Linked DNA regions of Homo sapiens: region 1 is linked to region 2. Evidence: fine-mapped expression QTL. A gene starts in region 2. The other region holds a variant in brackets. All regions are shown on one strand. Distances are from middle to middle.

Evidence for each region. PIP is the estimated chance that this variant, and not a neighbour inherited with it, causes the effect. A credible set is the group of variants that fine-mapping cannot tell apart.
Region 1: its variant is the best candidate, but not a certain one, in a credible set for the expression of PTP4A2 in whole blood (INTERVAL, PIP 0.51).

The regions. Positions count from the first base shown.
Region 1 is chr1:31,902,815-31,907,197 of GRCh38, forward strand. PTP4A2 (protein tyrosine phosphatase 4A2) reads right to left here. Exons shown (of 6, transcript NM_080391.4): 6 at 3,607-4,383. Among named protein-coding and RNA genes, the nearest start is that of PTP4A2, 33 kb to the right of the region's middle. The variant C/T (reference allele first, on the strand shown) is at 2,120.
Region 2 is chr1:31,936,033-31,940,425 of GRCh38, forward strand. PTP4A2 (protein tyrosine phosphatase 4A2) reads right to left here and starts at 2,336. Exons shown (of 6, transcript NM_080391.4): 1 at 1,955-2,336. RefSeq lists enhancers at 1,493-1,542, 2,653-2,922 and silencers at 1,723-2,062, 1,839-2,010, 2,213-2,592.

The sequences.
Region 1 (4,383 bases), 33 kb before region 2:
AAAAAGACTATGTTTTGGCCAGGCACGGTAGCTCACGCCTGTAATCCCAGCACTTTGGGAGGCCGAAGTGGAGGGATCACTTGAGGTCAGGAGTTCAAGACCAGCCTGGCCAACATGGTGAAACTCCATCTCTACTAAAAATACAAAAATTAGCTGGGCGTGGTGGCACGTGCCTGTAGTCCCAGCTACTTGGGAGGCTGAGGCAGGAGAATTGCTTAAACCCAGGAGGTAGAGATTGCAGTGAGCCGAGATCGCGCCACTGCACTCCAGCCTGGGCCACAGAGCAAGACTCCATGTCCTAAATAAATAAATAAATAAAGGCTATGAAGACTATGTCTCTCCAAAAAAAAAAAAAAAAAAAAATTTTTTTTTTTGAGACAGAGTTTCGCTCGTCACCCAGGCTGGAGTGCAATGGCACGATTCTCCTGCCTCAGCCTCCCGAGTAGCTGGGACTACAGGCATGCATCACCCTGCCTGGCTAATTTTGTATTTTTAGAAGAGACGGGGTTTCGCCATGTTGGCCAGGCTGGTCTCGAACCCCTGGCCTCAGGTGATCCGCCCGCCTCGGCCTCCCGAAGTGCTGGGATTACAGATGTGAGCCACCACACCCAACCAAAAAATTTTAATTAGCTGGGCACAGTGACATGCACGTGTAGTCCTAGCTACTCAGGAGGCTGAGGTAGGATCGTTTGAGCCCGAGTTCAAGGTTACGGTGAGCTATGATCATGCCACTACACTCCAGCCTGGGTGACAAAACAAGACCCTCAAAAAAAAGTTATGAGAATTGACCATCGATCGGGGTGATCCTTTTTTTTTTTTTTTTTTTTTTTTTTTTAGACAGTCTTACTCTGTTGACCAGGTAGGAGCACAGAAGCATAATTTTGGCTCACTGCAACCTCTGCCTCCCAGGTTCAAGCGATTCTCGTGCCTCAGCCACCCAGAGTAGCTGGGATTACAGGCGTGTGCCACCACATCCAGCTAATTTTGTATTTTCAGTAGAGACGGGGTTTCACCATGTTGGGAGGCTGGTCTTGAACTCCTGGCCTCATGTGATCTGTCTGCCTTGGCCTCCCAAAGTGCAGGCATGAGCCACTGCACCCAGCCTCTGGCGATCTTTAACACGGGCTGTTCTGTGGAGTCAAAATCCTCATTGGTGCAAGCTCAAAGGAGAGAAGTAGAGAGCATAGATAGATAATTCTCAACTTGTACTAGAGAAGAGCAAAGAAGCGGGATGACAGCTGAAGGGGCAGATGCGGGGTCAAACAAGGATTTTTTTAAAATATGGAATACTAGCATGTTTATAAGCTCATGGGAATGATCTAGTAGGGGGAAAAGTTAATGAGCAGGACAGAGAAGGAAAATGGCTACACCTCTGGGCCCTTTGAACAGGTTAAGGGATGGAATTTAGCACACAAGTGGAAGAGCTTGCCTTAAATAGGGCAAGGACAGGCCGGGCAGTGGCTCATGCCTGTAATCCCAGCACTTTGGGAGGCCAAGGTAGGCAGATCATGAGGTCAGGAGTTTGAGACCAGCCTGACCAATATGGTGAAACCCCGTCTCTACTAAAAATACAAAATTTAGCTGGGCTTGGTGGCATGTGCCTGTAATCCCTGCTACTCAGGATGCTGAGGCAGGAGAATCGCTTGCTCCCGGGAGGCGGAAGTTGCAGTGAGCTGAGATTGCGCCACTGTACTCCAGCCTGGGTGACAGAGCAAGACTCAGTCTCAAAAAAAAAAAAAAAAAAATTGGGCAAGGACAGTCTGCCTATAGTAACTAAAAGACAGTAGCACAGATGCAGGTGGGTGAGTAGATGTGATGGGAGGAGCTTGTGAAAATTTTATTTCTAAGTTTTAAAAAGTCATAAGCTGAGAGGATGGCAAAGGTGTTAAAAATTTAAGAGAAAGTGTAAATGGGATAGAGAAATGTACTAGGATTGAGAGGTTTTGAGGCTCATGTGAGGTCATAGCTTTAGTTTTCAAGACAGGGTCTCACTATGTTGCCCAGGATGGAGTGCAGTGGCTGTTCACGGGCACAATCATTTCACAATGTAGCCTCAAAACTCCTGGGCTCAAGTGATTCTCTTGCCTCAGCCTCCTGAGTAACTGAGACTTAATAGGCG[C/T]GTACCACCTGGCCCGGGGAGGTCATGACCTTAGAGAGACTGAATCAGCATGTTCAGTTGTGTAAGTACTTAAGTGCACAGAAAGTGGAGTACTGAACTTAACCAAAAATGGATTTTAGCCAGGGAAGTACAATGCAACAAGAGATGGGGCAAGGCTGAAAAGCTGATTGTCACAGTGCATCACAGAACCTAAGCTAGGTAATGAAGGACATGAAGAAGTGAAAAGAGGTGAAGAGAAGTGGCAGGATCAATGAATTCTGAGACTCGTCTCGCTGTCACCCAGGATGAAGTGCAGTGGCACAGTATCAGGTCACTGCAACCTCAGCCTCCCATGTTCAAGCAATCCTCTCACTTCAGCCTCCCGAGTAGCTGGGACTGTAGTCCAGATGGTAGTGCGCCACGACACCCAGTTACTTTTTGTATTTTTTGTCAAGTTGGGGTTTGGCCATGTTGCCCAGGCTGTGGATCAATGATCTATAAATAGTACTATAACCACCCACTGTAACTGTTTTATGTCTACATATCTGACACCCCCTCCAGACTGAGGTACTCCAAAGTGAAATGAGTGTCGTATCTTTTCCTAGTATCTGAGCATGTTGTTACCTGGGTGGATGGATGCTTACCCATAGTGAAAGGGAAATTCCACACTCCCAAATCCTGATATATTAATACAGAGCTGTTACTTCCTCATTGTTCTTTAATACGAATTCAAGTACAAAGTTGCAATGCTTCACCAAAACCTATGGTATAAATAAGCTGGGTGCAGTGAGAGACTACTCAGAATGGCCATAGTATATGCGATTATTGACTCTGTGAATAGCCACTGCACTCCAGCCTGGGAAGCACTACACGACTCTGTCTCTAAAAAATAATAATCTATGGTATAAACCAAGCCTTTGACAAGATGCTGAATTCCTACAGGGTTGTATACAAGAACTGAACCAGAAAATGTACTAGATGTATCCCAGCTATGGTTAAGTTGGCTCTTCCTGAACACCTCAGTGACATAAAATCTTTGAATTTCCAAGCCTCTATTTTACCTCCTTGCAGTAAACTAGCAGGACCCAAAACAGTCCTTGAAAATAGCAGGCAAAGAAAGGGGAACAGATGTAAGTGAAATTTTGGTTTTGTTGTTGTTGTTTTGGGACAGGGTGTCTGTCACCAAGGCTGGAGTATAGTGGCATGATCACAGCTCACTACAGCCTCAACCTCTTGGGCTCAAGTGTTCCTCTCACCTCAGCCTCCCAAGTAGCTGAGACTGCAAGCACACACCACCATGCCCAGCTAATTATTAAACATTTTTTTTTTGTAGAGATGGACTCAACACATTACCCAGGCTGGTCTTGAACTCCTGGGGCTCAAGTGATCCGCCTGCCTTGGCCTTCCGAAGTGCTGGGATTATAGGCATGAGCCACTGCACCCAGCTTAAACTCCGCTTTATAAGCACAGACATAAACTCTTGAGGATGGAGGAAAAAAATGCACAAAGAGCGTGTAAAATATGTTTTATTGTTCTTTAAAAGGGTTCAGGGTTTGGTTTTAAATCAGGCTGCACACCTTTCAAATCAATCTGACATCTCTCTATGTCAAACTGGCTTCAGCTAGCAATACTTCATTAAATCGAAAAGAAAAAAATTGCTTTAAGGAAAAAAAATCCAGTTTTAAGAACAATTAACATTAGTCTTTAAAATAAAAGGAGGGCTAATGTTTCATGTTGCTTTATACATCCTTCTCCTCAATACAGAACCAGGAATGTAATTTTCCTAACTCAGGCAGGCACTGATACTGATGGACACTGCGCGTGCACACACACACACACACATACACACACACACACACACACACACACACACACCCCCTCCCCCCAAACAACAAAATTCAGAGTATGTCAAAGGAAAAAGGTTTGTTATTGTATTGATCAAAACCCAGTGGAATCAACACCATCTATCTTAGCTTAGCAGGTATGCTGTTTTGATCTTGAGTCTATATTAATGGAATCTATTGTTGCATTCTGAAATAAAGAATTTTGGATATACCATTATGTTTTAAAGTCCTAGAAACAATTTCGAAAAGCATTATTTTGTTTTGTTTTCTGGGATGGGAGAGGAGAGAATCTACAGATTTGCGTTTAGTTAAAAATCAAAACTCCAGCATAGGAAATAGGCAGTTCACATAGCCGGTCAACATGTGAGGTATCATCAGTGTGAGACAAGGTCCCGGTCTGTTCCTATTGGCCTAGCTGACGCTAACAAAATGGGAGGCTTA
Region 2 (4,393 bases):
CCTGCCTCAGCCTCCCAAAGTGCTAGGATTACAGGTATGAGCCAGCTTGCCCAGCCGAAAAATATAATTTCTAACTTTTAATTACACATCAGTGATTTTGCCTGTAATTCTATTATGTTCACTATCAAAAGGACCACCCTCACGCCTGTTAATCCCAGCACTTTGGGAGGCCAAGGCAGGTGGATCACTGGAGGTCAGGAGTTCGAGACCAGCCTGGCCAACAAGGTGAAACCCCATCTCTACTAAAAATATGAAAATTAGCCGGGTGTGGTGGCACACACTTGTATTCTCAGCTACTTGGGAGGCTGAGGCGGGAAGATCATTTGAACCCGGGAAGCCTGGGCAACAAACAGAGCGAGACTCCATCTCAAAAACAAACAAAAAAAAAACAAAAGGACCATACTACTCTTTGCTTATACTGAAAGACTACCAACTTCTATCGCTTCTCGGCCTTTTGGCTAAGATCAAGTGAAAGACTACCAACTTCTAGGAGACATTATTTTTAAGATAACATCATTTTTAAGATTATATCAATGTGTAAAATCCCTATCAAGGTACTACTCTTCAAGAATCCCTACTTTTACAACACAAGAATGGGAAAAGTCCATGATAATAATTAGTCCATTCATTATGAAACTTAAAAATGCCAAGATCAGAATACCAGCAAACAACTTCTCACCATCTTCACCAATACAATGGTGTGCTGGCAAGTGATTCTGAAGCCCTGATAATGTGTCATTCTGTATCCTTAATCTCCTTTTGCACACTCAGCAAGGCATAACTTCACTCACTTCCCTCTGAAACTACTCTCTCTTACAGAGCATGACAGCAAGTACCATATTCCAACTCAGCAGTGTAATGTAGTTTGGCGACTCCGGACAGACAAACATTTGCTGAATGCCTACAGTGACACTAGAATTGCTAGTCACTGCTAATTTCTTGACAAATTCCAGGAAATAATAAACCAGACTACAGTTCAATTTACCTAACAATAAAATACTCTTCACCTGAAAAACTAGCAGTACTTTACAAAAGTTTATGCTCCTGAACACTCTACAGGCCAGAGTGTAGGATTTTGGGCAACAGACAAACTTCTTTTCGTTAGCTCTCAGGGGCCCCAGACTAGGATAGGATGGCATCATTGACAAATTTGAAAATTTACTTTGAAGTCATGAAACGTGGGAGAAAAAAATGTATAGAACAACAACAAAAAAACACATCACATCCTTTCTGGGGGAAAAAAATTAAAATCCCAGAGCCAGAAGATCATAGTGCCGCTGGAGGAGACTTATACCCCCTTTCCTCATACTTGAACCTGAAGACCCACGGACAAGATGCTCCCGGAAAGAACTCCCCAACCCAACACACCAGGGTTCACTATCGCCACACACAAAGACCAAGGGGAAGGGCCTCTAGGATGCCTGCTCACACACTGGACACACGCCGGCACACCCTACCACACTCCTGCCTCTGCCACGCACCTTCTCACCGACACACACCATGTTCTCCCCCCACACTCACCCGCTCTTTACCACACTCTCAACTCTCTCCTCCCCCATTTACTCACTCATTCTACCACCACCCCTCATGCCCACACGCTCCCCACACACCCATACCCTCCCCTGCCCTCACCCACATTCCCCCAACATCGACACTGCCTCCCGACGCGCTCCCACTCCCCCCACCTCCTCGCACGGACACTCAGCCCTGTCCCCCACTCACACGCCCTCCCTTCACCAACTCACTCTCCCCCACGCTCGCACAGCTCTCTCCCTTCCACACACACGAGCCCGCCCCTCGCTCACCCACCCTCGCTCCCCCGCCCCGGCCCGGCCCGGCCCTCCTTCCGGGGACGTGTCTCCGGCCTGCACTAATGGCTGCGGCGCCTCCCGCCCTCCCCTTCCCCGAGGCCCCCGGCGCCGGCGCGGGGGCCGCCCGGGAGGGGCGCACTCACGCTGGCGAGCTGGGGACTGGGCATTGAAGTCCGGCGGTGGCGGGAGCGAGGAGGCGCCTCTCTCCTCAGTCACCTCGGCGGCGGCGGCGGCGGCGGTAGCGGTGGCGGCGGCGGCGACGACTCCCCCCCAGCCTCGGCGCGCGACACCCGGCCCGGCCCGGCGGCGGCGGCGGCGGCGCGTCTCCACGAGTCCGTCTTGCTGCTGCTGCTGCGGCCGCCGCTGCGTCTCCTGCTGCCGCCGCTGCCTCCGCTGCCGCCGCTGCCCTGTGGCGTCACCTCGCGCCGTGCCCGGCCGCCGCTGCCGCTCCAGCCGCTCCCGGACAGACGACGGTTACAGCCCGGCCGATCGCGCCGCCACCACCACCGCTGCGCGCGCAGCCGGAACCAGCTCCCGCCGCCGCCCCTCAGGGGGCGCTGCGGGGCGCGGCGCGCAGGGCCACCGGCCCGCCCTCCGCGTTCGCTGACTGGCTGGCTGGCCGGCTCGCGGGCAGTTGGGCCCGCCCACCTGCCCCGCGGGGCGCTGACCCACTGCCCTGGGCGCCTCCCCCGCTCCTCCTCCTCGTGGTTCGTTCCGCTCCGCACTCCCGGCTACGGAAGGCGAGTCCATGTGATCGGGGAGGGAAGGCAGAACGTGGCCTGGGGAGTCGCTCGCCCACGCTGCGCCCCGCCCATCCGCACCTGGGCTGGGTCGAGGGCCTGCAGCCGAGGTGTGACCTGCAAGGTCGAAGGGTTCTTTCTCGCTACTTGGCCCTAAGGCCTCGGGTCAGATCCTGATGGGACGGGGTGGCCGCCACGTCCTGGGCTTGGGGATTTCCAACTCAGAAGTGGGAACCTGGCCAGCTCAGTTCTCGGCTGCCCTTCCTGAGGCCCCAAATGAATGGCGTGTGCATCTTCGTCGAAGATATTAATACGCCACCCCCAGCTCTGCCCACAAGACACACACCCACCCTAAGAACTGTCCCTGACAAGCCAAAATTCAGACTTTCAGGATGTAGGATCTTGGGCAAGTGATTCCAAGTATTATCAACTATTAAATGGAAATAATAATCAGCTACCTCATGGGCTCTTTCACGTATCGATAACAACGTATGAAAACGCTTGAGAAGGGCCAGGCGCGGTGGCTCATACCTGTAATCCCAGTACTTTGGGAGGCCGAGGAGGGCAGATCACAAGGTCAGGAGTTCGAGACCAGCCTGGCCAACATAGTGAAACCCTGTGTCTGCTAAAAATACAAAAATTAGCTGGGCATGGTGGCGCCCGCCCGGAAGGAGGGCCGTAATCCCAGCTACTCGGGAGGTTGAGGCAGGAGACTCACTTGAACCCGGGAGGCGGAGTTTGCAGTGAGCCGAGATCGTGCCACTGCACTCCAACCTGGGCGACAGAGTGAGACTCCGTCTCAAAAAAAAAAAAGAAAGAAAAAGAAAACGCTTGAGTTGAGAAAGTGAGAAAGAAGAGACCCTGAATTTCAAGCTTTCCGACTTAATGTCACCTTTAACGACGCAGATTATCGTAGAGATTCTCAGGTGGAAAGGTTTTTGCCTCTTGCATTTGGAAGCTAGCCAGAAATTCTTTGCCAGATCATGCGTCCTGAGTTTTGGTTTGGAAAATGTGGTCACTAGCGAGCTAGGAGGCTGGTTTGGGCCACGACCAGATGGCAAAGTGCGGCATTGGAGGCTGGCTTGGGAGGGAGATGTCTCCCCCTGGGAATTGCGGGTTGGGGAGGGTCTGTTCTTTCTGTCCACCCCTGGGAAGTCTTGCCTGCCCAGAACTGGCGCCTATATAGGAAGAAATGAAGATGCTCCCGTGGGTGCTTCTCCCCCACCTCGCCACCACATCCATGCTCATCCAGCCCTGCGGGGAGAAGCAGTGATCTGTCGTCATTAGACCTTCCCCACAAGGTAGACTTGGGGCATTGCTTCTGACCAGAAGGCTTCCATTAGCGCTTAGCAGTAAAAAGAAAGGTCTTATGACTCAGCCGCATCAAGCCACAGCACAGAGTCCAGGATGTTCACCACCAGGTGGCCCAGGAGGGGGTATTCTAGGGCAAGGCTGGCTAGCAGGGCTGTGTGGGAGTTGAGAGAGGCCTTGAGGAGCAGGAGGGGCTGCAGATCAGTAGCAAGGCCCTTAGGTGAGGAGCACAGACTGGGCTCACTTGCATTCTGTCTGCCTCCAGCAAGCAGTATTTTCTACTTCCTGGAAACATAGACTGATTTGAAAGAAAGAGCTACCACCTCTGCAAAACTTTTGCTGCGTCTGTGAGTTATTGATTCTTCCGATAAAGTTGCAAAACACCTTGTGCAATACTCTACCATAGTACTTAACATGGAATTGTAATTGCCTGTTTTCAGATTCTCCCCTGCTTAAATGGATCTATTTGGGGCAGTCTAGCAGATTGTTTGCTTGTTTGTTTTCATCTAGTAGATTGTCTGACCAAGTGAA